Linked DNA regions of Homo sapiens: regions 1, 3 and 4 are each linked to region 2. Evidence: fine-mapped expression QTL. A gene starts in region 2. Each other region holds a variant in brackets. All regions are shown on one strand. Distances are from middle to middle.

Region 1 (5,261 bases), 56 kb before region 2:
ACTGAAATAAAACTTCATCGACATTTGTGCTTCCTTATGAAACACATTGAACAGCGAGAACTAGCAAGAGATCTAATAAGTAGTGTGATGCTGAAACACTGATAGATGTGAAGTTCAAGATACCTGCAACACTATGAGGTGATGGGAAGGCATCTGTGATTTCTATTGGTGGTAAAGCCATAGGCACTGCTAATGTGACTGAGTGTCATTGCCTACATTCATCATTGAAGGACAAATCAGACGTCCTTCAGTGCTACGGACGGGTCAGTGGTTAGTGAAGATAAAGGTGCAATGTTTTCCAGCCCTGTCTGCTGACCTGCTAAATTCCACCCATGGACTACTCAGGGGCCCTCATGCTGCAAGGCTCAGCCCTAACTCCACTGCCTCGCCCTCCTGTGAGTTCCAACCACATCATGGTAGGCTCTTTCCCCCAGGCCTGAGTTGCCCTCCACAGCCCTGAGCACTTGCTAAGCGCAAGGCATGAACCCCAAATGCTGATCAGATTGAATTTTCCTGCACCTGTCATCCAAAGTGGGGTGAGGGGCTAGGGAACCACTGCTTCCCTCAGCCTCCTGGAAGCTGGTGGCTGGACACTCTTAGGGCCTGCTACGTGGGCCGTGACTGGCAACTACTACGGTGGCTGGTGACTTATGTTCTCCAGATGCCATGCCCGGAGTGGTCCCTCCCTCTTTTGGGCTTTACCAGCTCCGGAAATTAGCTCTCCCCTCCCTGGGCGCATCTATGGGTGTTCTGGTTGGCTGCCCCAATCCCATCACCAGCCCTTCAGGGCAAGGCAGCTCTGAGCCTGCAGCTGACCACAGGGCTACACCGTGCCGGGCCCCGTGCCGGGCCCCGTGCCAGGTGTGTCCTCACCTGCTTCACGTTGTAGCCAGTCTTCGCACTGGTCTCAATGAACATGACGCTCAGTTCTTTGGCGCGCTGCTCCCCCTCCTCGATGGTTATCTGCCTAGAGATGAGGGGAAGGGGGGAAATCAGCTCAGCAGAGAAGCAGACCCTGGCAGATATGAGGAGGGACCCACCCAGCAGGGCAGAGGGAGCCCACTGGGCCCTTGGTCAGTCCTGAAGACAGGCTCTGATCCCAAGGGTCCCTCCCGGGCACCAACCACAGTCTCGCTAGCACAAAGCAGGCACCAGGGAACAGTAGGACACTATCCGCTTCCCCCACTCCTTCCTTTGTGTCTTCTCAGCTTCAAAGCAGGCCCTGGGGTAGGGCTGCCCCATACCTGCCTTTCCCAGTAGTCACTACTGCAGAGCCTGTGCTTATGAAGAGATTCAAGCCAGGCAGTGCCACTCTGGGTGGTATTATCAGTCGCATTTTCCCTGTGAGAACACTAATGCTAAAAGTGTCTCCCCCAGGGCCACAAAGCTACTTAGCAGAGAGGGCTCCATGATGGGGCAGGCAGAAGTGGGTGAGGGTATGAAGGGCCTGGGTACCCTTTGTACTGGGATTTGAGCCCAGTTTTCCTTACTTTAAGGACAGAACTCTAGTAAAGCAGGCTCTAATTCAGATGATTCCTCAGGTGGTCAAGGGACGCTGCAGGAAGCCCACACTGCTTGCTGGAGTCCATGGCCTGTCACTTTATCTGCCCAAGTCAGGGTCATGTAAAATGAGTGGACAATGTACACACATGGCACCTCAGTTCTCCCTGTGCATGGAGGGCAGCATGGAGGAGCCTCTTCAGAGAAAGCTTCATGCCAGACGCAGCCACAAACCAGGCTAAGCAGGCTACGGCCATAGGTTTGTGGTCTGAATGCTCTGCATGCTCACACCTAGGGCCCAGGGCATTCACAGCCCCACGCACATTGGTGCAGACACTTCACAGGCACAGACAGTTCACAGTGCACACGCTGGGGCCTAGAGGACTGCTGTGTCTGGGGCAGGGCTGTGGCCATGGCAGGGCCTTAGACCATGCACTGCTGGGTCAAGCCAGGTGCACAGTGCTCTGTGTAGACAGCAAACGGAGAAGTGCCCCGCCCCTGCCTGGTGGTGGAAGACAGGGCTTCACAGATGAGATACCCATGGATGAGAGTCTACCAGGTGTCCTCAAAGCTCCTAGTGTCTCAAGGGACCTTTTCCGGATGCATGGTCAGAAGCACAGACACACCACCCATGCATCCCAGAGCTCCCTGTCCAGGAGCAGTTACAGAGGAGTGGAGGGTGGCACCCTGCACCTGTGTGCCCTTGCACCTACCTCTTATCAGCCAGGTCCGTCTTGTTGCCCACCAGCATGATGATAACATCACTGCCCCTCTCTGTCCTGACGTCGTCGATCCACTTAGAGGTCTGTTGGAAGGAGTTGAGATCTGGAGGCAGAAAGTGAGGATAAACTGAAAGCCAGGGCCAGCCACCAGTGGGAGATGGGAAGGGGAGGTGTGAGCCAGGAGCAGGAGGGAGGGTGAGCATGTGCCCTCAGATACCCAGGGAGGGGTGTGAGCTCAGTCAACACAGATCAGCTGGGTAGGGCCTTTCAGAGGGAACCGGGCCCTGCCCTGCGGCCCTGGGGAGCCACTTGCACTGTTCAGCCACCCTTTGTGGGAGAGGAATCACCCCATCTGGAAGATCACAGTGTCATGATTTGCCACATGGAATAGTGGCTTTAGGGGCCCACCTGAGAGACCTGACTCTGGGGATTCAGAGTGGAGAGTGAGAACTGGGTCACACGTGTGTGTGCA[T/TAC]ACACACACACACACACACATGCGCGCGCGACTTGGCAAGTTTGGGAACAGTGAGGGTGGGCAGAGGAGGACACAGCAGCCTCTAGGGAAGGAAGGGCCCTACTGAGTGGTGTCCCCACCATGGGAGCTCAGGAGAGTTTGGGGAAGGCCAGAGGGGTTTCTGAAGAGAACCCTCAGGCTCTGCAGATGAGAGGAGGGGAAAGGTGGCCCCGGGACTAGTCAGGGGAGCCAGGTGCACTCAAAAATCCAGGAGAGACAAGGCCACTTCTGGGCAGCCTGACCCCCCTCAGCTGCCATGATAGGCCTTGCAGGGCAGAGCAGCTATAAGGCAATACCCACCACTCGGCAGCCTGCACACCCAAGGGGAGGGGAGGTAGCTGTCCTCAGAAGCCTCAGTTTCACACAGCCTGGTATCCCTTCTGATGTGCCTCAGGCCATGTGAACCCAGGCCCTTGCGGGCCCAGCTCCCACCTGCACTCAGGTGTGGAGGGGGCCTGTGGTCAGAAGAGAGGTGGACAGAAGGGGTGGGCAGAGCCAGGGCAGCAGGCTGGGTGGCGGGGGCATGCACCAGCGCGGGGACATGCATGCTTCCTTGTGTGATTTTTAAGGCTGTGGACAGCACCTAGGGCATTCGCCCACTTCAGGGTAACCACAGCCCTGAGGGCTTATCAGGTGTGTTCCATTACAAGAGCCTTGCAGGTCTGGCCTCTGCCTCGGCCCCCCACCCCCACCTCTGGCCCTGTGCGCCCTTGAGGCTGTGCAGTCCTGTTAAGAACACCTGCCCTGGCCTGAAGAGCCACAGTACTGGAGAAGGGTTACCAGCCTACTGCGCTTCCAGACCCCCTTGCCTACCTTCCCAGGGAGTCCTGCACCCACAGCTGCTGGGCCGGGGTTGGCCTAGGGACCAGCGTCTTCTCCCATGGTGACACACATATAGAAGTAGCTCCTTAGGGAGCTTTCTGACAGCCAGGGAGAGGGAGGGTGCAGAGAGGCTGGAGCAGGGCCAACCTTGTGAGCATCTGCTCACACCACAAGCTGGCCTCCACTCCGAGCAGGACCAACCTGGCCCTATAAACCCCTGTCGGTTGCAGGAGGGTGGGGAGCAGTGGAAACCATGTTGGTGTTCAAAGGCAACTCACCACTGCTCCCTGCCTTTCTGCATTCAGGGAGCAATCGCACACACATGCGTGTGCACACACATGCGTGTGCACACACATGCACACAGGCCTGGCCAGGGTCACACCTGGGCCCTGGACCCCCTATGAGCCACCCTCCCTTAGGAGCAGAGCCTCACTCACTTGTGATGTCGTACACCACCACAGCCACCGTGGAGTCCCGGATGTAGCTGGGGATCAGGCTGCGGAACCTCTCCTGACCAGCTGTGTCCCAGAGCTGCAGTCGCACCTGTCTCAGGGAGGGCAGGACCATGGGCAGAGGGGTCAGTGGGGCAGTGAGGTCCTCCTGGTCCGGGGGACTGGGAGAGCCGGGCTCTGCAATGCTGGCATCACCAGCTCCAGCCCCTAGTGTCGGCAGGTGCTCTCAGTGGTGCCCAGCTAAGGGTCCTAGGGGATAAGCCCAAAGGAACCCTCCCTGCCCCTCCCAGTCCTGATATTAGGTGCTCACCGTGCGGTCCTCCAAGTACATGGTTTTTGACAAGAAGTCAATCCCAATGGTTGCCTGTTAGAGAAAAGCACAGAACGGTCAAAATCAAAAGGTCTCATGCAAAGGGGCAAAAGCCTAGCGACCACAGGTGGTGGCATAACCAGCAAGAGGGGACGCTCATGTCAGGTCTAATGTGGCCATGCTCTGTCCTCCCTGCCCCTCCCTGCTACCACTCAGCGGCTCTCTCACTGAGGGATCAAGCTGAGGAAAGATGAGGGTGGCCTTTATAGGGTGAGATCTTCTCTGGAGAGGGCAAGTGCTTCAGAAGCAGTGAGAGCGCAGTGGTGAGGAGGCCTCCCCAGGAGCAAGGCCACTCAGGCCACTCAACGCACATATCCTGCCCTCCCCACCTGGACTCCCTGCCTTGTTCCCTTCATGGCCTAACCTGCAGCTTCCAAAGCCTCTTCCCTCTGCCCTAAAGCATGGGCCTGGGCTCAACACTGACCTCGGGAGGGTGGGAGGCAGGGGGCAGGAGCAGGCAGCTTGCTGCTGTGTGGGTGCAAACAGCAGCATGGCTTTTCTCAGGTGCGGGCACTGCAGACCACCCAGAGTGGCCTCTCGCTGGGAGGCCCCACTGGCTCTTTTCTCCCCAAGCCAAAACATTGGAAGCTGTCACCAGCTCCCCTGTGCCACACCTATGCCTCTTCTGCCCTGGCACCTGTGAGAGGCAGCCAGCCTTGTGGCCAGATGGCCAGGACCCACCACTCACTTGCTGTGTGGCCTTGGGCAGGCAACCAACCTCTCTGGGCCTCACAGGCACCCGGTACCTGTCAGTAGGACTGAGATGCTGTCAATGTAAAATGGAGATATCACTGCTATGTAATCAATAATAACAAAGACTTGGACACAGCCTGAATGTCCACGGCACTAAATAAGCATAGTGTGGTATATCCATGTGATTAGAA
Region 2 (5,463 bases):
AACCTACCAGGGGCCAGGCACTTTGAGAGGCACTAAAGAAACATGAAGAAGTAAGAGAATTGTCTTCAAGCAACCATTTTTCAGAGACAGAAAGTGAGTCACAGAGAGGCCTCAAATTTTACTAAAGACAACACAGCTAAGAATTCAACCCCCAGGCTGCCTGATCCCTGCAGGTTATCTCCCAGGGCTCCAGGCCGGGTGAGACTAGCACTGGGATGTGAATACCACCAAAATCCCTTCCAGACACAGGGTATGGTCAGCTCTATGAAACTGGGATCTATTAAAAACAGGCAATCAGAATCCAGGGCAAACGCTGGCTGGCTGAGTGGATCTTCTTCTGAAATGCCCAGCCTGTCCCCCAAACCCATCTCCATACTGGGCCTGGACACTACCTTCTAACGTCCTTCTCTGAACCATCCATCTTAGGCAATGAGTATCAGCAGACAAGAGCCAGCCACGTGACCTCCATAACCCTCATGTACACACAGCACAGTAGCACTGTTCCTGGGCCCACCCAGTCCTCCCACAGCTGCCTTTCTTTTGGGCCCCCTTGTCAGAGAGGCACCAACCCAGGTGAACAGGACTGGTCTGCAGAGGCAGAGCTGGGGTCCTGTCCCGCAAGGACAGCCTTCTCCCAGAGCAGAGCTGACCAGAGCTCAGTTTGTCTCCCTGCAGCCCCATGCGAGAGGCCTCTGGAGGGATGCTCTGAAAGCCACTCCTTCCTACAGGTGGCAGAGGGGTCCCTGCCCTTCAATCTGGGCTTCCCGCCTCTAGGGACTAACCTGGTTTTCAGAGATGTTTTCCTGGGGAGGGAGCCGGGCAGCGGAGAAGCAGTCTCCCCCTCCCCCAGCTCTGGCCGACTGCCAGGGTGACCTCCCCTCCCCCAAGAAGGGCGGTGAGCTGGGAGGTGGGGGTGGGAAGAATCCACCGATGCTCTCTGGAGGAGTGCTGGGAAGCTAGGCAGGGCGTGTCGCCTGGGCCTTTCTCTGCCCAGAGCCAGACTTCACAGCCTCTCGGTGTGAGGTGCCCCTGTATCATTCCCCAAATCGCCTCGAGTTGGGGTAGCCCTCACTGCAATTGCCCAGATCCCTGGGCAGCAAGGAGACTAACAAGCGCCGGCGAAGGGCAGCGGGTCTAGAACCTTCTGTGCCCAGTCGGACGTGAGCCAGGGGAGGTAGGCTCCCCGTTCCCCCATGGCCTGCACTCGCTCTTTCGAGCAGAGACAGGTGTCGCTCTTTTCTCCCCGGTGGCTGTTTGTCCCACGCCCTGGACGTGCCCTTTCGCATGGTTCCCAGCAGGGTCCGCAGGGAACACCCCTCCAGTGCAGCGGAGTGAGGCCCGGCCAGACCCCAGCTTCGCTTCGTTCTCCAAGGGGGGCGCCCGTCGCTCTCCCCACCCCCGCCAGCACCCAGCCACCTGCGCGGTCGCCCGCAGCCGGTGCCGCAGTGTGAGCTAGCCAGCGAGCCCGGTTCCTTCACGCCCTGGCCAGCGCCGCGGAGCCAGCCGCCGCCCTCCGGGCCCCCTGCAGCGCCGCACCTGCACCCACACCCCGGGCCCCCCACCCAGAGCCCACCCTCACCTCCACCCCAGGCTCCAGCGCCTCCTCCGTCCTCACCCTTGGCCCCTCCCCAGCCCGACCCCGCCCCGACCTCCCCATCCCTGTCCCTCTCCTCTACCCTGGCAAGGAGGGGCCTTTCCGAGCCTGGGCCGGGGGTCCCAATGGGGTGGGCGATTGGGCGGCGGGGGTCGACTCGGCGACAAGCCAAGAGATTAAGCCGGGTACTTACCGCTCTGCTCCCCCAAGAACACCAACTTGAATTTTCTCAGTGGATTCCCAAAATCTCCCCCTGCGGACATGGTGCTGGCAGCCGGGGCCGGGAGAGGAGGAGGAGGAAAAAGCGAAGGAGCAGGGAGGGGAGAGTAGGAGGGCGAGGGGAGGCGGCCGGCGGTGCGGGAGCCGGAGGGGGAAGGGCTGGCTGCGCGCGTCCCTGACTCCCCAGCTGCGTCCCGGTCCCGGCCTGCGGCTGCGTGTCCGGCGGCGGAGGAGGAGGAGGAGAGAGAGGCGGAGGCGGAGGAAGGCTGGGGCTGGGCTGCTGCGGTCGGCACTGGCTGCGGTGCGAGGGGCGCGCTCTTTACGCCCGAGGCGCGGCGCTGGGAGAGAGGCGCGGGCGGAGCGGGGCGCAGGGACGGCGCGCGGGGCGGAGGAGCGCTCTCCAGAGCCGCGCCAGTCGGCCCCCTCCCGCCTGCCTCCTCCGCCGGCGCCTGCGCTCTGTGCGCTCCCCAGCCTCTGATGTCATGCGGGGCCCGCGGGGCTGCGGGGCTGGGGGGCGTGCGCCCGCCCACCCGAGCCCGCACCCGGGCAGGAGAGAACCTCCTCGCCGTACCCCTGAGAGCCCCCCGGGGGGGACCGTGTCTCGCTGCCCCGCTGCGTCTGTCTTCCCCACTCTACCCCTCTTTTGAATCCAGAAAATGACAGAAATTGTCAGGGGACATTTGTTTCTGGTCTTTTAAACCTAGATGCCAGTCCCTTCCTCCACCTCGCGAGACACCGATGCACAGCGCAGTCGTCCGACCGACAGGGCGGAAAGGAACGAAGGTGGGGGAGAGCCAGGGTGTGGCGAGGCCCGTCAGGGCGGTCAGACCTAGGGAAACCTGGCGTACTTGGCGCAGATGGGGCTCGACTCTTGCCCCCCGTGGCTTCTAGCCCGCCCTTCCCTCTCGAGGCCTAGACCCTTTATTTGGGCGGCCTCTTGTGGAGTCTGTGGGTGCCCCCGCAGACCTGGCCAGCGAGAGAGGAGCTGCCAATATCAGGCGCGCCTACCTCAAACCAGCTGCTCATTTGGATCATTTTATGCCAAATCCTAACCTGCCCCATGGGAGAGAAGGAACGGTGACGCTCTGAATGCCAGTGCCACTATCTCCAGGACAGTGCCCTGCGTTTCTTGATCCCGGGGTCGCCAGGCTGACAATGCCACTCCCCACCCTGGCAATTAGGTGTATCTGGACAATGAGCTATCTGAGGACATGTGGGCGACCTCTCCTTGGCCTCTACTTGCCTGGTCCATCGAGGCACACAGACCAAGTTGTGAGTGAGTGAGAGCAAAGAGCAGACGCCAAGTGCTAGAAACACTCCCAAGACAGCCCGAGCCTAAGGCATGCTGGTTAATTGAGGTTTTACAAAGCTGTCCCTTACTGTTCTGCCACAGCGTGGTCTTGTTCATTTATGGCTGTTCAGTGAGCATTTATTTGAGATAATAATCTGCATGTCGGTGAACACGATGGTGTGTGCACGCATGTGTTATAGAAAGAGAAAGAGGAGTGAGACACAACCTTCACCTCCAGATTTCTCGTGGACACTTGTTACCCCCTTTTTGACTTATGGGGCTTGCTTGGGCAAGCCTATCTGTCTCCCTGGTGTGCTCACCTCGAATCTCTTTCCTATTTCTTGTTAGAAACCTGACCACAAGTTCCATAAAAGCAGTAGTTGAAGCTCCACCACTGCATCCCAAGGACATAGCTCAGAGTTTAAGAAATAGTTGTTGAATGTTTGAATGAACATCTAGAACTCAAATCAAAATAACTGTCCTATTCTCATAATTACCTTTAGTTTGGAACCCCAGGGATTGTAAGTCATCACCTAGAATATCTGCCCCGTTGTGGCTGGCACCAGGCTCAGGGTAACCCTCCAGACACCCACCCACTTCTCTGGGGCTCCTGCTCTCTTAGGAGACCATATCCAGCTTGGGGTTGAAGAAAGCTCTGAAAGGAGAGGAGACTCCCAAGTCACAGCCCTTCCCGTCTCTATAAGTGATCCCTCCAAAGAAGGGCCAGTGAGCTACTGGCCAAGGTACCCAGCCATGCAACACTCCTCCAACCTGCACCTTCTCCTAACATCTAGTGCTGTCTCCCTGTACCCTCTCATCCTGACCTGATGAGATCATCGGTGGCAAGACAAAACAGCTGAGGTGTGCCAGAAAAGGCACCATCTTTTGGGTAAGCCTAGGCAGGTCCTGTACCTCCTCTGATCATCTGGTCCCGCACATGTAAGGTGGTATGGCAGTAGGGGAGGGAGGGCTGGGGCAGGGCCCCTCTGGGCACCTCTAAGCCTCCAAGTCATCCCATATGCTTACCAGGTCCAGCTGGGCTGACTATGGTCCAGCTTACTTTGGGGGACTCTGTCATAATTCTTCCAGTTCAAATGACAAAAACCCGGCTCCGACTACCGGGCTCACGTCGCTGGAGCAGATACTGGCATTGCTCTCAGAATGCAGTCATCATGCTGTGGAAATGAGAGCCTTAGAGACTCCAAGTTTGCTCTGCTCCAAGTCTCTCTCCTCCAACTATCATTGCTTATCTCCCCTGATTTTGAGTCTTGTCCTTAACCTGCCCTAAAGCAGACAGACTTTCTCCAGGTGGAAAATGGGGCCACTGAACCTCAGCCTGGCAACCTCACTAGAAAGAGTTTCTTCCATATCATAGAATCTGTGCATTCCATTTAAAAAAATTCTTTAAATCTTCCTATTTAGTATGTGCTGTGTATATGTAAGTTACAAAGAAAACCTATCACTCTGAGTGCCCATTTACCCTCTACACAGCTGGAGGGCTCAAATATTATAGTACTTTTCAGGCCCCCAGGTGCTTTCTTCTCCTTCCTCCCTCCCCAACTTGGAAATCCAGAATCTTAGCTTTTCTTTGAGTTTTATCACATTGGATGTGTCCTTCACAATACTTTGTTTTGTTTTGCATCTTTTGAATCTTATATAAGGTATCAAACTGTGTTTTCTGTCCTGACTTGCATGTTTCTTAACATCATGTTTCTGAGATCCATTTGTTAATTCATGTAGCAGCAGTTCTTTCATTTTCACTGCTGGTTAGTATTCTAGTTATGCCCCAATTTTTAAATGATTTTCTGTAAAATGTGTCATTTAAAATTTTTATTTTATTTTATTTTATTATTGTTGTTATTATTTTTGAGATGGAGTCTTGGTCTGTCACCAGGCTGGAGTGTAGCGGCGCCATCTCGGCTCACTGTAACCTCCGCCTCCCAGGTTCAAGCAATTCACCTGCCTCAGCCTCCCGAGTAGCTGGTACTACAGCCACGCACCACCAGGTCTAGCTAATTTTTTTATTTTTAGTAGAGCCGAGGTTTCACCATGTTGACCAGAATGGTCTCAATCTCTTAACCTCGTGATCCGCCTGCATCAGCCTCCCAAAGTGCTGGGATTACAGGTGTGAGCCACCACGCCTGGCCTTTTTTAAAATTATTTTAAATAATTTTATACTCACATAGAGGTTATAAAAAACAGTGCAGGGAGTTACTATGTATCCTGCACCAAGCTACCCCAGTGATAACATCTTACATAACCACATTGCTTAGTAAAACCAGGAAATTAACATTGGAAAATGCACTCAGTTTTGTTTCTGCTATTAACAAACAATGCTGCCATCAACATTCTTTACATG
Region 3 (5,463 bases), 31 kb before region 2:
TCATCTTGAATTCAAACCGATCCAGTAGAACTCCCCTCATTAGGAGGACAGGCTTGGTGCTACAAAGCCCTGGCCCAGAGAGGATACAACAAAGACAAAGTGTGACCAAGGTGAACATCCCACAGTCCACACCTGAGGCTGTGCACATCAGCCAGGGCCCCTCTCCCAGAGCCTCTGTCAATTCCTATGGTCAGTTTCACCAAGTCCACTGGCTAGCCAGTATTTCAGACCATAGCAGAGTAGAAGCAGAGGTAAAGTAAAAATTGAGACCACAGCAAAGAAAGAGTAAAAATGAGAGAGAGGCAGACAGAGGGGCTGTATTTAAGGCAAGGAGGATAATTGGTCCAGAGGGAGACAGACAGACTAAAAAGTAGATACAGAGCTGCAGTCTGCAGTGAGCTGTGCTCCACATACTCTGTAAATCCAGAAAGGAGGAGGGACGTCTTAGAACAGCAGTCCCCGCTGTGTTCTATAAATATTTGTCCTTTGAGAACTCGATAACCAAGGGATTCCATGATCAAATACATCTGAGAGATCCTACACACTATATCCCTCTTTCAGTAAATCAAAACTATACACTGATATAGTCAGGCTCCGAGAAGCCCTGCAGCACAGCAGTAGATTTACTTTTGTTCACCCAGTGTTCCCTAAATCTGTACAAGCTCTGAACCCACCACCCCCTACCTCAACTTTTTTTCAAGTAACACCTACCAACACCTCTTGGAATTAGTATCTCACAGAATCCACTAGTGTAGAAAAATGCATTATCATTTGTCTCTATCTAAGGAATAAAACAGCACCTTTTTTCTTTAAAAGAGTTGAAATGATTAAGTTTGGTGCCTTTTGCAAAAAGCTATAATTGCATGGAAAATTCACTTTACTTGCACAAACCTCCCTACTCACCAGTGGTGCCAGGAAAGTGACATGTTATTAACCCCCAAGAACTTGGCCTTCAGGGCACCTGGAACCACCTCTGGGCCTCTGGTTGACCCCAGACTACGCCTCCAGGGCCAGGAGCTGCAGAGGTCACCGCATCCAGCCTCCTGCCCATGTAGGGCAGGGCAAGCTCATCGCACCAGCCTCTCCAGGGAAGGAAGTGCCTCAGCAACCGTGTGTGTGTGTGTGCGCGCGTGTGTGTGTTTGTGTGCGTGTGTGGGGGGGGGCGGGGGTGAGAGAGAGAGAAGGTCCCAGCAAACATAACCATTACAACCATGCATGAGGCGCAAGTTCGCCTAACACTCTCATTTTCATCTTGTTCCTCTTCCACATGATGACTCCCCTGAACAACCAAACACTATCATGGTTTGGATCTGCCTGTGAGGAACAAGAGAACACAGACTCTCTCTATTTTTAGAATTTTCCTCTGAAAAATGTTCCCTTTACCGAGGGGTGGATTTTCAGAAGGGCTCAAGCTCTTTACAGGGATGGGGCCAGTATAGAGGTGGGAAGCTCCTCCATAGCAAAATGACAGCCTGGGAACCCAGGGCCATTCCACTCCCACCCCAGCTCAGCAAGTTTCAAAGAGAGGTCAGCCACTGCCAGATGATATGGAGGGTGAGCACCCAGGACCTCACCTGGTATGTGTTGTCGAAGCTGTCGTACATGAACCTCGTAATCAGAGACGTCTTCCCGACTGCAAAACAACAAGGAGAGAGGTGTTCAGTCATGGCATCTGAGCTAGGCTCTTCTAAACACACTGCATTTGAAGAAAAGATAACAAAACCAAAAAGCACAGGGGAAAGGCCGAGTTGCAGAAATACAGAAGTGGGAGACAGGCCCCTGCTAGGGACCCCGTGGTGAGGCCACCGAGTCTCTATACCAGGTGGGCTGAGGGCTGTTCCTGCCAGGCACCAGGGTGCTGCCAAGGAGGAGGTATCCCACTGCCCCATGGATTTCCACTACCCAAATCCAGGTCTTCCTTGACCCAGGAGAACCCAGCTGATGCAAGAACCATCTATAAAGAATCAAGGTAAGTGGGTGCAAAACAGGAGGCTCCTCTCGTACTTGCCCATGTACACCTTGTTGTTGGTCATACACTGGAATGGAAGCCTGCCCTTTATTTCCTGTTAATTCAGCCTGAAGATTGGTGGGGACAGTGGCTTTCTAAGGAACCAGGGGCGGGGAGGCAAATGTCATTTCCCCATGTCTCTCATGGACAGGACTATTCTTTGTGTATCTGACCGTCCAGCTCATTGCAGGATGTTTAG[C/T]ATACCTGGAACCCCGCTAGGTAAATGCCAGGAGGATCCCCAGTCACTGTGACAACTGTAGACTCACTCACACATCTGCAAATGCCCTGTAGGGGCAGTGACACCCCAACTGAGAACAACTGGAACAGCTGAGAGAAAACAGGACGTCTCTTGGGAATCCTACAAATGCTGCTAATTTCCCAAATTGTAGAATTTGGCTTCTGACCTCACCCTGTGCAGCTCCCCTGGGGCCTGGCAGTGACAGAAATGCCAACTGCTGCATTTCTAACCATCTGGGGTGGGGGAAGAGGGCAGTCAAGGGACATTCATTAGGACGGGCCCTGCACGGATGCCTGTCTGTACTGTCCTATCATGTCTCTGCCATGACCCTGGGAGGCTCAGTGGGGAATCTGCCCAGCTGTGCTGGCTCAGAGCCCTTTCTGCACTAGGCTTCAGGAGGACAGGTAATGCTGGCAGGCAAAACAAAAGTACCCTCACCCTCCCATTTCCCAGGCTGGCAGTACATCCACAAGCTGTGCCTGGTGGGGTGGCTGGTCACTCCCTGGAGGGAGCAGGACAAGCCAACAGGACCCCTTGGCAAAGGCCCTTTACCAGCTTTGAGGCCTCAAGAGTGCACCACATAACAGACAAGTGCACTCAGCTCCCAGCAGCCAGCATTTGCTATGGGAAAGATGATCTTCTACCCAGAAGGAGCATCTGACTGACTGTGTTTGGGCTAAATTCAGAAGACCCCATCTTTAACCCAGATTTGGTTAGCTGGATTGAAATCCTATTGGGGTACTTTTCAGCTGTGTCACCTTGAGGTTATCACCATCCCAGGACCTCAGTTCCTCATTTGAAAATGAGTATATTAACATCAAAGACTTCAGGGGGCTGTAGTAAGAATTAAATCAGGTAAAAAGTACAAGGCACATGGGAAATGCTTAAAAGTGGAAGGAGGCAGCAGGTAACTGAGCAAGGTAAGGCAGTTTCCAGAATATCAGATGGAAAAAATATATGTATCACCACCACCCCCAGCCCTCAACTCTGGGCGGCACTCAAGTCATCCCCATTTCACACAATGGGCAATTAGGTGGCAGCTCCTGGCCCAGGGTCAGAGCTGAGTGGGGCTGGGATGTGGCTGCCTGACCAGGTGCTCAGTTCCTATCCAGGTCCTCCTTGATAGGTCATGCTGGGTTCAGGATTCTGCCAGGTCAGGATTCTGCCCTTGTTGGAGAACGCTGACCACCACGCCAACTCTGGGTGGTCAGTGCCAGAAGTGAATTGTAGGGTACCAGCTGGTGTCAGAACAGCCCCATTTTTAAAACAACATTTCTGGGGTGAGCAGAAATGTGCCCAAGATCTCTTCTAATTTTACCTGGAAGCAGCCTTTTCTAAACTTCTGATAGAAACGAGGCTATAAAGAGCATTCTGACTGCTTTAAATCTCCCCTTAAATTTCACATGAAGGTGAGAAGTAGGGGGCCTCCCATACCTGGAGGATCAGCTCTGAGGCCATGAGGCCCCAGGCACCTGGCTGAGGACCACAGAGGGGAAAGTGGGGCAACCCTGAACTAGCAAGAGGCAGATGCATTGGGGAAAACACAGCATCCTCCTTTTTGAAAGGGAGTGGAAAGTTACTGCCTCCTTGGGAAGAGAGGCATCCCAGGGCACGCTGGTCACTTCCCTAGGCAGCGACGCTCTGCGTCTTGCACCTTAGGGAAAGGTGCATGCATCAGGGATCAGGGTGGGGAGATGGATGGGAAGACACTGAGTCTCTTCTCCCCAGGGCCTCCAAGCACAGAGAGGAGAGAAAGCAGGGTCCCAAAAAGCCACTAAGGGCACAGAAATTTCATGGAGTAGCTGAAAACTTGGAAATCCCTGCAACACCTTCTAATGCCAAGGTGCCTCTCCATGAGACACCAGCCACTGGCAGTGGATTAGCACTTGCTCACAGGTCTAGGGGGCAGGAAAACATCCCCTGAAAGTTTTTTACTGGGAATTGTGCAGGAGGAGCTTTTAGGTGTGGGGTCCTGGCCAGAGCTGATATTTTCTATGCATTCCCGCAGTCACCATAATAGGCAACACATGACCCCAGCATTTACAGAGCATGTTCCAGGCACATAGTAGGGGCTGAGTCAGGCACAGAATTGACATGAGAACAGTAAACAGAGGAGACGTGGCACCTGCCCACTGAAGCTTGCAGCAACACTGGGTACCATACCTCCCAGCCCTCAACTCTGGGTGGCACTAATGTCATCCACATTTCACACAACGGGCATTAAGGTGACAGCTCCTGCACCAGGGTCAGAGCTGAGTGGGGCTGGGATGTGGCTGCATGACCAGGTGCTCAGTTCTTATCCGGGTACTCCTTGATAGATCATGCTGGGTTCAGAATTCTGCCAGGTCATTATTGCCACTGCTGTGGCGCTCCAGGGAACAGCCCGTCCCAGGCCAAGTCTGGAATTGGGGGCCTTTCCCCACTTGGTAGGGGCTTGATCCAATCTGAAAGGTCAGAAACTGGTCACTGAGGTGCCCTGGAAGTGCTTTGTGGGGTACAAGGAGGGCTCAGAAAGTGAGGGTTTTAACATCTGGGGCCCAGCACCCCAACTCAGGCTTGAAATGGATGAGGGACTCATTCTTACTTTGCTGCAAAAGGCAATGACTTTACACTATTCCTCTAGGCTCATTTTTCTCATTTCTCGGAGCTGAAGCCTTCTTCCCCACCTCAGAGCCCGCTAAGACTACCCATGCCCTCGTCACTTCTGCCAGGGTAATGTGTGTTACACCCCTGCAGTGGTATCCGAGACCCTTGTCCTCCATGCTTTGTCTCTGGGGAAGTGTCTGCAGACCTGAGGCAGAGCTTATTAAAAGGAGCTCCTCTTGTCCATTTCTGCCCAGCCTCTGCCCATGGTATCACATAAAGGAGCTAGGTGGGTAAGGGGTTGTGCTGTGCTAAGCTCCTCTCCCCTCTAAATGGCAAAGACCCCTTCCTCAGCCCACACCTGCCCTCAACAACTGCCCGGGGTGGAAGGTGCTAGAACCTGCAAATGGAGAACTTGCACACTGCATCTACCTGGCTACTTTCTCAGTCCCCCAACCATAAGGGGTGGGCAGAACCCATCCCGAGCCACCTGACCAGGCACTCCCACTCAGCCTCAGAGGAGCAGTAGCATGGGGCATCCCAGCAGGCCTGCAGCCTGGCAGGTGGAAGAGCCAGGAGCTCCTCCTGTGTCCCCCTGCCTCGCAACAGCTGCCGGAGTTTCTGCGGGAGCTGT
Region 4 (5,403 bases), 66 kb before region 2:
TCCAGAAAGCACTCAACAATATTAGCAGCTGAGGCTCTAAGAACATGGATCTTTCAAGGTGGTGGTTCTGCAGACAACACCCCCCCCCCCCCCCGCCTCCCCATCACAGAGGATCAACTCCAGGTGGTCCAGCTTCCCTGACATCCAGGAGGAAGGCTTCAGGATGGCACACTGCCCAACATCACACACTGAGTTTCTTAGACTTGGCCCAGGCATGTGTACTGACTGCTGGGTGGGCTGGTTAAAATATTTTCAGAAGTACACATGGCACCCCAGTCTATAAACCACGCACCACGCAGCTGCAATTGCCAACAGCACCTCGTCCTTCTGATGGCCTCTTGCTCTGCCAGTCCCTGAGGGCACAGAGAACACAAGGTTGCCTGTACCCTCAACCCCCTTCAAGGCTTTTCAGGGAAAGAGAAGGAGAGGTGGGAGCAGTTCCTCTGGGGGCTGCTGCCGGGCTGCCTAGAGCCCACAGACCTTGGTCTCAGCTCCACACGAGGTTGACGACCCACTCTGGCCATGGAAAGACAAGAGTCAGAGCTACCTTTTCAGAGGCTGATGTGTTCAACCAATGTTTGATTTAACTGGAGTAGGGCCTAGAGAGTGGGGCCAGATGGCCCCAGACTGAAGCCTAATTAATTTGCTCAGTTAATTGTTTTAATTTATTGGGCTGGGGATAGGAGGAAGGCAGAGGTGATGAATGGTTCAAAGAGAACAGGAAGGAGGAGGTGTGTGGAAAAGGTTCTCTATAAGTTTACAAATATACAAAAACAAAAAGCACATCTTTCAAATAAAAATGACTACATTTTTATCTGGCAAAAAATTGTATACACATGATTTAAATTTTTTTTAAATTTTAACAGTTTTTGGCAATCTTAATAAAGTACAATATATTACAACCAAACCAAAAAATAGTTGTTTAAGTAACAGCCGTTAAGAGTGATGTGATCCCTGATGCCCAGCCTCCCTCCCCATCCCACCCTACTCCTAAAGACAGAGAGAAAAGAAAAATCCTCCCATCTTGATAACTCGGTTCCCTCCCCCCTTAGGAAGCTAGCCAATAGGAAGCAACACAACAAGCAAGGAGTGTCATGGGAAGCCACAGGTCGGCTCTGCATTAGCAGGAGCAGCCGCCCTCGCTGGCCGGGGGCTCCTGGGGTTTGTCCAGCTTGATGTCGATCACTGCAGGGGGACGGGCTAAGGAAGATGACTCTCCTGGACAAGCTGCCACCCCACTTAGCCCTGTGCACTGTACCCTTTGGCTACTGCTCTGTTTCTCTGCAAACACCTAGGGACTTGGCTCTTGGTTTGGCTGGGCTAGGAAGGATGCAATACCAACTCCACCTTGCCTCCTCTTCCCTTCACCCGTCCACTTCCCCCAGCGCCTGTCCACCCAAGCAAAGCCTGTCTTGCCTGGGCCGTGGGATCACCATCTATACCAAGGCCAGGGAGTCCCTTTCCCAGAAGCCTTCCCTCGACCAGTGCTCAAATGCCAGCTCCCAGCCCTGGCCTCAGCCCAGTTACCTGTCAGCCCCACTCAAAGTGCAATGGAGATGAAGAGCCTGCTGGGTTCACATCTCAAAGCACAGGGGTATGTGGGCCTTGCCTAATTGGCAGCAGGAGCAAACCCTTCAAGCTTTAGTCAGAACACATCACTTAGATCCTGAGGATGGTTACTGTAAGAAGCCACATCCATGGGGCCTAAGCACAGCCCCCTCGCCAGCCCTTTCCACTGGTGCCCCCGGGGGCTGTGGGCTAAAGAAGCACTTATCAGAACCACCACAGGGACTGGTTCCAAATGCACAGCCAGGCTGGCCCTCTGCCTTCCTCATCGGGCTCAAAACCAACACTGTGAGATTTTAGCCTTGCATCAAACCAGACCTAATTATAGCTGAGGATCAGGCCCTTTGATACCTCACAGAATTGCTCTTCCTGGACAGGGATTGCCTTAAGACAGGGGTGTGTGGGGTGTGGTGGTATAAGAAACACTGTTTTGGAACTTCTTGCTGGCATCCTAAGGATGCTTTTGTGGCTCCTATTTGAGGACAACAGGAGAGGTTCTTTTGTTTTAAGTACTATGAAAAGCCATGCTTCTCCTGAAGTTCACATTCTCTTTCCTTGCCTTGGCTGTGAGGATGCTCAGAGCCAACTTTTTGGCCACCTCTAACAACCATGCGGCCATGGCATACATTTTGAGTATGACTTTATCTCTGACTTTTCTTTGCTTTTCCTACCTTTATTTTCCCCATGTGTGTGTGTACACACATACACATACAACTTTATC[TTGTG/T]TGTATGTATATGTATCTTATACCATGGCAGCCTATAAATGAGTAAATAGATACTAAGCCAGTGCCTTCCTTCCCACTGCCCACTGCAGCCCACCTTTTGTTCTCTCTACCCTAGTCAAGCAGCCTGCTTCTCTACTGCCCATCATTTTTGGTAAACCCACTGCCAGGAATGCCCTGCTGTTTCTCTCTGCCAGCTGCAGTTCTATGGCCCATGCCGGCAGTGCAGTCCTGTTCTGTATTGCTGGCCTGGGCACAGGCCTCCTTGAGGTCTCCTGGTCTTCTCTGAGTGCCCCTCTGAGCCCAGCCAGCTCTCTCTCAGCATGGTGGCTTCCCAAAGCCAGCTCTGGTGACAATCATGTCACACTCTGCTACAGAAACAAAGTGTCCACGGATTTCTCACTCTGGCATTTAAGGCCTCCCCATTTAGGGTCACCCCAAGCACCTGTTGACGCTAGCTTATCCCCTTCCCTCAATCACACACCAAGGCTCCACCAACCAGATTTTCCCTGCTTTAAACACGTCCTATGCTTTCCTTCTTTCCTTTGTTCATGCTGTTCTTTCCTTCTAGAAGTGATGCTCCCTCCCCCACACCCAGCCTTCCTCCCCATCTCCACCTGTAAAAATGTCCTCATTCCTTGGGCCAGGGTGCACGCATTAGTGGCCTCTCCTGCTGAGAGCTACCTCACTTCCACATTAGACCTCGTGCAGTGGGGAGTAAAAGAGCCACCTTCCAGCTGGGAAGCTGAGGTGCCCAGGTACAAACCCAAGGCTATCTTGACCCCAGCCTTCTACTTTCACTGACCTGGCTGTGCTAAGCCCCTTGTGGATGGGCTTCTCAAACTCAACACTACTGACATTTTGGGCCAGACAATTCCTTGTTATGAGGGCGTCCTGTGCACGGAGGATGTTCAGAAGCATCCCTGACCACTATCTATGAGATGCCAGTTAAACCCCATTCCCCCTCCCCCAATTTATGGTGAGCCAAAACGTCTGAAGACATTGCCAAATGTCCCCTGTGGGGAGGGGAGGGAAGGGCTATCAGTCCTGGTTGAGAACTAGTGGTCTAGCTTGAAGGTTGGCCACTGTTACAGCATTACGTTCTGCCCAGTATTGAAGTCACCTACGACCACTAAAACAATCTCATGCGCAATTTGATCACAATACTTTTGTACACTGCACAGCAATAGTTCTCAAATGGATTGCATCAAAATTTTCTGGGATGTTTGTTAAAAATACGTCTCACTGGGTCCTACCTTGGTAGATGTGGGGATGGGCCCCAGATGTGTGTTTTTAACAAGTTCTTTGGAGAGTCCCAATGCACAGACATCCGGGAAACCAATTCTACTGATACTTCTAGAACAGCACTGTCCAAAGAACTTTCTCCAGTGATGGAAATATTCTATATCTGCACTGTCCAAGATGTCACCATTAGCAACATGGGCAACTGGGCACTTGCAAGGATGCTAGTGCAAGTGAGGAAATGAACTTTTAATTCAACTGAATTTTAACTAATTTAAGTCGGAACACCCACATGTGGCTGCAGAATTGGAGAGCACAGGCCCAGCTCTTCCGCTAGGAGCCTTCCCAAAGGCTCTCATTTAATGACACCTCCTTCCTTGTTACGCCACATGCTGCTGAAATGCAGTGCTCAGGGGCTGCCCGCTGATTGAGAGGACAGGGAAGAATGACTGGACCCATGTCTAAATAATGTCCCAGAAGGGGAAACTCACGGTTTCTCACAAGCCTCAAGAGGTTAGATATGTGCCTTTCCGGCAGGCATGGCCAGAGCACACCCGCCTCTTCCCTCTGGGTCAAGTGTGGCCCATCACGGGCCACATTCAGTGCCCAATGTCCCTTCTCCCTGGTTCCTGGAAGTGATGGGTGGGCCCAGACAGCCTGTTACAAACTTACCCCCTACTGCTGGATATGCTTCCCCAATCCCAGTGCCTCTGACTCTACTGCAGCACAATCCTGTCTGTATCTGGAATGTCAAAGCACACCACAGCCCCATCAGAGAGTGCAACAGGGCTGTGGAATCCAGTCATTTGGATGTGGTTCCAGCTCTGAATTAAGGAGCTGGGAGGCCTTGAGCATGCTCTATCTGGTTTGCGGCGTCACTGTCCTCACCTGCTTAGAGCCACTTCATGAAGTGCCCACACTACTGCTCTTTCTTTGCGTAAGCCAGCCTTGTTCAGAAACAGTCTGGGGCCCATGTGATGGGCGCATACTGTATTTGGGTAGAAAGTGGGGGTTGGGGGGTTGTGTATGTAGAACCAGTAAGGGGCTTATGGCTCTACCATTTGGTGGCCCCTTGGCTCCTACTTTGTTGAGAGCAGACCAGTGGAGGGTGCTGCTGGGCAGAAGTATTGGCCAGAGCGGCCCTGAGGGGTCCTCCTGTCTCGAACGTGAAGAAGAGGTGCAGCAGCCCCCCATCTAGACCTGCAAGCAGCAGACGGAAACCTCATGCCACACATTCACCAAGTCCTGAGCTGAGCAAGTGAGGCCAGGTGTGAACAGTTTATACAGCGCCACAAAGCAGTGCTTCTGTGTGGCTGCTCTCAATGTGGAACACAATTATGAACATGACCCCAAAGCACACACCTTCAAAACACCTGGATTTGGACTGTGAGTAAGCAGAAATGCCAACACCCCATCCCGAAAGAAGCAGAATGACGGCTGCCTCTGCCTGGTCCCTCTGGGACCTCTGGTGGCCGCTCTAGCACCTGCCTCGTGAGAGGCCCAGCAAGCTGGCTCCTGGGCAGAAGTGAAAGGATGGGGGTACATCTACCCAGATGAGGGGACCCCTTAGCTAGAAAAAGGGACACAGGTCACAACACCCTGTGCAGTCTGTTTGCAACCTGCCATGTATCCTTTCTCCCAAGGGGCCCAAAGGTCAGTGGTAGCTGGATGAAACGCTAGGCATACCAGGACGATGACGAGCTCACTGTCACCCTGCACTCAGCCCAGTCTGACCTGACTGTGGGCCCAGCCTGGAGCCCTCAACAGCGCGACTCTGGGAGAATGTGAATGAAACGATCACCACTCACCCCGGCCAGTGTGCCACACCTTGGGAGCTGGTGGGATGGAGAGCGGGCAGTGCAACCCTTCCCCT

What was found. PIP is the estimated chance that this variant, and not a neighbour inherited with it, causes the effect.
Region 1: its variant is the best candidate, but not a certain one, in a credible set for the expression of RAB6B in whole blood (INTERVAL, PIP 0.85).
Region 3: its variant is the best candidate, but not a certain one, in a credible set for the expression of RAB6B in skin (TwinsUK, PIP 0.88).
Region 4: its variant is the best candidate, but not a certain one, in a credible set for the expression of RAB6B in fibroblasts (GTEx, PIP 0.75).

What each region holds. Positions count from the first base shown.
Region 1 is chr3:133,837,293-133,842,553 of GRCh38, forward strand. It overlaps RAB6B (RAB6B, member RAS oncogene family), which reads right to left. Exons shown (of 8, transcript NM_016577.4): 3 at 4,318-4,371; 4 at 3,993-4,098; 5 at 2,214-2,325; 6 at 874-967. Among named protein-coding and RNA genes, the nearest start is that of SRPRB, 34 kb to the left of the region's middle. RefSeq lists an enhancer at 2,580-3,080. The variant T/TAC (reference allele first, on the strand shown) is at 2,695.
Region 2 is chr3:133,893,610-133,899,072 of GRCh38, forward strand. RAB6B (RAB6B, member RAS oncogene family) reads right to left here and starts at 2,273. Exons shown (of 8, transcript NM_016577.4): 1 at 1,788-2,273. The coding sequence starts at 1,857. RefSeq lists a silencer at 2,243-2,292.
Region 3 is chr3:133,863,010-133,868,472 of GRCh38, forward strand. RAB6B (RAB6B, member RAS oncogene family) reads right to left here. Exons shown (of 8, transcript NM_016577.4): 2 at 1,575-1,633. Among named protein-coding and RNA genes, the nearest start is that of RAB6B, 30 kb to the right of the region's middle. The variant C/T (reference allele first, on the strand shown) is at 2,208.
Region 4 is chr3:133,827,668-133,833,070 of GRCh38, forward strand. RAB6B (RAB6B, member RAS oncogene family) reads right to left here. Exons shown (of 8, transcript NM_016577.4): 8 at 1-1,185. The coding sequence ends at 1,121. It also overlaps a transcript of SRPRB not described here. Among named protein-coding and RNA genes, the nearest start is that of SRPRB, 25 kb to the left of the region's middle. The variant TTGTG/T (reference allele first, on the strand shown) is at 2,288.